Linked DNA regions of Homo sapiens. The protein of the gene in region 1 purifies or fractionates together with the protein of each later gene. This does not show direct contact. Each region holds a gene or a part of one and is shown in the gene's direction. Other genes may lie near its edges.

What was found.
Region 2: the proteins of TWIST2 (region 1) and ZBTB20 purify together in Homo sapiens (affinity purification with mass spectrometry; one large-scale study listed by BioGRID and IntAct). This does not show direct contact.

What each region holds. Positions count from the first base shown.
Region 1 is NC_000002.12:238,906,492-238,909,004, forward strand, and holds part of TWIST2 (twist-related protein 2), read left to right. Parts: intron 1-2,513. UniProt on the Homo sapiens protein: Binds to the E-box consensus sequence 5'-CANNTG-3' as a heterodimer and inhibits transcriptional activation by MYOD1, MYOG, MEF2A and MEF2C. Also represses expression of pro-inflammatory cytokines such as TNFA and IL1B.
Region 2 is NC_000003.12:115,140,780-115,144,624, reverse strand, and holds part of ZBTB20 (zinc finger and BTB domain-containing protein 20), read left to right. Parts: intron 1-3,845. UniProt on the Homo sapiens protein: May be a transcription factor that may be involved in hematopoiesis, oncogenesis, and immune responses. Plays a role in postnatal myogenesis, may be involved in the regulation of satellite cells self-renewal.

The sequences.
Region 1 (2,513 bases):
ATGGATGCACATGCTCACACACATGCATGCACACTGGCACACACACGGGCCAACTTACACGATACACATGCTCACACAATTTACACAACTTGCACATGGACACACACTCACTCTGGACATTCTTTCATACTCACACTCACTCTCACACTAGTGGGCACACTCACAGACACACACACGGGATGTCACCGAGCACCACGTCACCCGTCCCTCCAGCTTCCACATCCTCCCCCCAGTGCCTGGGGCCTCCCTGGACCTCCTTCCCTGTGGCAGAATCCTCACGGTGACCCCTCTCCTGGCGGCCGCCTTGGGGAGCCCATGCCTGCCTCTGGGCTGACACCCACCCCTCCCACCACGCTCAGCCGCTCTGCGGGAGGAGGGTCTCGTTGCGCTGGTTTGCCCCTTGGCTCAGGGGAGTTCTCCAATAATTCTCGCTGAACACTCACCTCCCGCGAGCTCTGCAGGTCAACTGGCTGTTCTCATGTTTGTGCAAGAGGTGTGGGAGTGAGCACTTACACGGCCAGGCCCTGTGGTGAGCAGTAAAGGTCCCAGGTCGCAGGGCCAGTCTTCAGCGATCCCTGCTAGAGCTCAGGTCTCCTGGCAGGACAGCAACACAGCCTGGGGGCTGCTGCAGGCTGGCCTGGGTGTGTGGCAGAAGCGGCCCTGAGGCGCGGCGCGGGGCCCACCTGTGTTCGCCACACTCCCGACCAGGTGCTGATGCCAGTGGCGTGTCCCCTGCCCTGTGGGCCCCACTGAGGTGGCCCAAGACCTTGGGCTTATGACACCACATCCCTGTACACCCTGGGTCTCAGACGCTGGCCCCGGCCACCTCTCAGCACCTTCTCTTTGAGCTTGGCAGGCACAGAGGGAGGCGCGGGATTGGGGTCCCCACCCCGGCTTCCTGGAGGACCTGGACTTTCCTCCTGCCTGTGTCTCCTCCCCCTGCAGGTGGGAACCAGGCTCTGGGTAGCGCCTGAGCGGGTTCTTTCCCCAAGGCGCTCCCGGGACAGCTGGTTGCAGCCCCAGAGCTGCACCAAGCCTGGCACACCCACAGTTTGATTGGCCCACAAGTGCGCTTAGAAGTCACTTGTGTGGCATGAGGGGACCTTGTGGGGCTGGAAGAATTGTGTGTCTTGATCATAGTGGGGGGTGCAAGAAACAACACGCATGATGAAACTGCAGGAAGTACACATACACCACTCACACACACACACAAATGCACACAATACACACACAAACACACACATAAACGCACACAACACACACACAAAAACACACAAACACTCCACATACCCACTTACACACATAAACACACACCACGCGCCACACAAATATACCACACACTACACACACACCCCCACACTGTACATACACACCACATACACACACACCACACAAACACACTACACCCCCACTTACAAACACACACCACCTACACCACACACAAACACACATCACATGGCACACAAACATACCACACACTACACACACACCCCACATTGTACATACGCACCACATACACAAACACATACCACACAAACACACCACACCCCCACATACACACACAAAGTCACGCCACATACACCACACACCATACAAACATACCACACACACAGACATACCACATACACATACACATAGATACCATACCATACACACTACCCACTACATACCACATATACATACCCCACACCACACACACATACACACGCCACACTGTACACATATACCCCCCATACAAAATACAATCCCCCAAACACACACCACATACACCATGCACCATACATACCACACACTACACACACACTTCACACTGTACATAGACACCACATACACACACATACCACACACACAAACACACCACACCCCACATACACACAAACACAAACCACATGCACCACACACCACACAAACATACCACACACTGCACACACCACACATACCACATACACACACATGCACACACATACAACATACCATGTACACTACACACTATATACCACACATACATACCCCACACCACACACACCCACACGAGTGACATGTGAATAAGCTCTTGGTCCATACTGGTGCCAGATGCCTGGGTGTGACGTGACGACACCACTGTATGTGTGGCATATAATGTGGTATATAATATACCATATGGTATGTTGTCTGTGTGGATATGTATGTGGTATGTTTGTGCAGTGTGTGGGGTGTGTGTAGTATGCAGTGTGTTTGTGCTGTGCAGTGTGTGTGTGGGTATGTGGGGATGTGGTGTGTTTGTGTGTGGTATGTGTTTGTGTATGAGGTGTGTATGGACAGTGGGATGCGTGTGTAGTGTGCGGTATGTTTGTGTGGTGTGTGGTGTGTGTGATGTGTTTGTGTGTGGGAGGGTGTGGTGTGTTTGTGTGGTGTGTGGTGGTGTATGTAGTGTGTTTGTGTATGTGGCAGTGTGGTGTGTTTGTGTGTGTGGTATTTGTATGTGGTGTGTATGTACAGTGCGGGGTGTGTGTAGTGTGTAGTATGTTTGTGTG
Region 2 (3,845 bases), on another chromosome or scaffold:
AATGGAATACTAGAGGAAAGAGAAACTTTCATGTGAGGGCTATAATTGGGGAAGGGGGTGTTTAGAACTACCAGTTGATGTGATGCCAGTTTCTTCTATAATTGGATCAGAAAGTTTTTGAGGCCCGCAAACATCTAATTCCTCTTGTTGTCCTGTTAATAAGAATTTGACTACTTGGTATAGGAAGAAAATCTAAGGAAAAAATATTTTAAGCGAATCATTTTTGTTGCATTAGTGAAAGTTTTCAGAAGACTTTTTAGACAAATTGGACTTTCTAGTAAAAAGGCTAGTCTGAATAATTAGGTAAATTGGACTTTCTAGAAAAAAAGGCCAGTCTGAATAATTAGGTTGTTTTAGAAGGGCAATAAAAGCTACAGCTAAGTTCCTGCGATCTATAATTTATAAAATAATTACATATTATTTTGAATAACTTCACAGAATCAGTGGCAAGCAGAGACTTCTTCAAAAACATTTGGAATACGGAAGTAGAGATTGATGGGCTTTGCTTTAGTCTCTGAAATAATCATATTTTTCTGAAATGGATGGTTAAATTTATCATATTGTTCTAGACACTTGGAGTGTAATAATGAACAAGAGAGAAAATTGCCTGCCCTTGTGGAGCTTACATTCTAATGTCACACACACTTTGTGCATTTTAGATTGTTAGGGGAGGAGATTTTTTAATGAAACTTTAAAACCTAGCTGCTTTCTTGTCTTAGGAACTACAGTTTGAAAGAGCCTACAGAAGTTTGAGAAGGAGGAAGGTGTTTACCAGTTGGCAGTGATAGGAAAGAAAGATCTTAGTTTATTTCTTATTTGTACCTTTTGTTATTGTCATGAAACTTTCTCCATATATTTCAGTTGGTAATTTTAACAGATAGGGATTTTTTTCATGATTTTAATAATGTCTTTGAAATTAATAAAACGTTGCTTTATATTAAAAAAATCTTGTGTCTTGAAAGTTACTATAAAATTCCTACATAGTATTATCCCGTTAGCAAAGTATGGTAAAACAAAAGCTAGAATATCTGTTAATTTTTGGTTGGGATTTGTTTTTAGGAACATATCTGAAAAATCAAGTACCTAAATCTTTTTCAGTTCTGGGTTTCTTTTTCGTTTTTTGAGATGGGAATCTCCTTTTATTGCCCAGGCTGTACTTTAACTCCTGGGCTCAAGTGATCCGCCCTCCTGCCTCAGCCTCCTAGTAGCTGGGACTAAGGTGCATGCCACCATGCCTAGTTTCAGTTGTGATTTTATCAAGAGAAGGTGAAAATTTATTGTAATTAGTTTATAGGCGACATTAAAGAGGAGAGACCTGCAAAAAATGCTTTGTTATTTAAACCATTTTTTCAAAAGCATTTGATTGGCACTTTTCTGCTTTAATAGACTTATTTGTAATGCAAGAGGAACATTACAGAAGATTTTAGCAATACTTTAATCATTTAGTCTGTAGGTGTAAAAATCCTGGGTTTCTAATAGAAGGAAAGTTGGTACCTGGTTAAATGAGTATATGATTTAATGCTGAGATTGTGACTTCAAGTAGTGGGTGTCTCACCTTTCCAAAACCTAGTTCATAGTTCTCAAATAACAGTTTTTCCTTTTTAATTTTTTTTCCCATCTGTCATGGTGAGTCTTACTTTGTTAGCCAAATACAAGTTTAGTTCTTAAGTGGAATAACTTTTTTTAATACAATCCTCCCTCCTCCAGCCCTCCCATCCTGTGCCGTGGAGGGTTTGTCACGCTTATACCTACATTAGATCTCTATTTATGCTAATTTGGAACATAATCAGCCTCTTCCAGGAAGGGTACATATTAATGCACTTTAGAGCAGTTTGTGATTGCCTCTGGCTATTTGTATACGGACTTGCCAGCATCTGAAAACTATAAATAGGAAGATTTAGGAGGAAACAGACTTTATAACTAATGGAATACATTGTTTCAGTTGAATTTTTTTTTTTTTTTTTTGATGGAGTCTTGCTCTGTCGCCAGGCTGGAGTGTAGTGGCACAATCTTGGCCCGCTGCAGCCTCCCCTCCCAGATTCAAGCAATTCTCCTGCCTCAGTCTCCTGAGTAGCTGGGACTACAGGCGCGCACAGCCACGTCCTACTAATTTTTTTGTTATTTTTAGTAGAGACAGGGTTTCACCATGTTGGCCACGATGGTCTTGATCTCCTGACCTCGTGATCTGCCTGCCTTGGCCTCCCAAAGAGCTAGGATTACAGGTGTGAGCCACCGTGCCCAGCCTCAGTTGAATTTTTTTTAAAGAGCAAAATGGAAGAATGGCTAATTGAATGTTAAAAAGTAAGACCATTTCCTGTTTTCTGGTAAGGATGGTTGATCGATGTGTGTTTGCATGTGTGTGTGAGTATATATTTATAAATGAGCAGTTTTTGAATAAAGACATATCAATACTGGATAAATAATTCCAGTCCTGCCTGTGGTCCTTGACATGGAGTGTATTCAGGGTTCCCTGGTGATTTTGTTTAAGCCACTTTGTTACCAAAACTTTCCTATGGATAGCATAGAAACACAAGCTAATTAAATTTCTATAAATTTTATATTTTTGGGATGAAGTGTTATTTTGGAAGTATTTTTTTAAGCATGATTACCAGCCAACCTGTGAAATGAATGAAATCTGAAGTGCAGAGTTCATGGAACCTTATATCCACCTAAGATAGTTGAGTTTCAAGAAGGTATTTTTAACGGCAGAAGATGAAATCTTGACATCTATCAAGTTTTTATAGTAATAAAGTAAGCATGACTAAGTTTATTAATATTCATATTTGTAAGGTAAGTCTAAGCATGTGTACAGTGCATTTTAAGTCAAAATTTGGGGTGTTATTGGCTAGACACAGTCATTTCTTTGCCAGAGATACTAGGCTGTGTGAAGGCTAACCATCTGTCAAGTGATAGAGACAAAGAAAGGTTTTAATATACTAGTCTAAAATTTCCACAAACTTGTTTTGAATGGTATTGTCATTTTCTTTTGGCCTTCATACTCTGTGTTGAATATGCACTGGGTCAGTCACCCTACTTTGTTTTATGAACAAACTATTCAAGGTCCAGATGAGGTTATTGTCACAGCTGATGTGATCTAGAGGCAAGATAAAATATGTTTTGATTTTGCTTTCATATAATCAAAAACTCACAGTGGGCCACCCACTAGTAGTTACACAAATGGTTTCAAGTGTACTTGTTTTCACCCACCCATTCTGAATTTTGGGTGTCTTAATTATTTTGCTTTATGTATTCAAGCCTTGTATTTCAAACCCATTCCTGAGCTGTTTGGGGGAAGAAAAAGTAGCAACAGGAATCCAGATTGCCTGTTTTAGGTACAATATGGTGTGATGTGAAATTGAAACAGCAGATTGGTGAGAAACTTTAGTTTCAAACAAATATAAACTAGTTTGTTTAGTGAAGTCATACACAAAACAGTAGTCTCTATTGACAGGGCAATGTTTTTTTCAGTGATTCCCATATCATGAGGTCACTTTTGTTCTTTGGGCCAACAGTCTGTTTTCAAGGTGTCATATAAGAAAAGCACTAAATACTGCTGATTGTAATGATATACTTACATATGGCAGCACAAGAAATTATTTATAGCAGTGCTAATTATATCAATAAAAATAGCAATATTAATACTGTGTCAAAATCCATTCTTGACAGTATGAGGTAAACAGAACTATAGTCAAACAAAGCAGCCAGCCTGTCTTTACTGTCAGCTCACAGATATGCACTTTAAGAAAAATATACACACAGTTTAGAGAGTTGAGTGTACCAATTTAATCTCTTTTCAATTACTTTTGGCTTTTAAAAAGATGTTCTAATTCAACATAATATTAAAA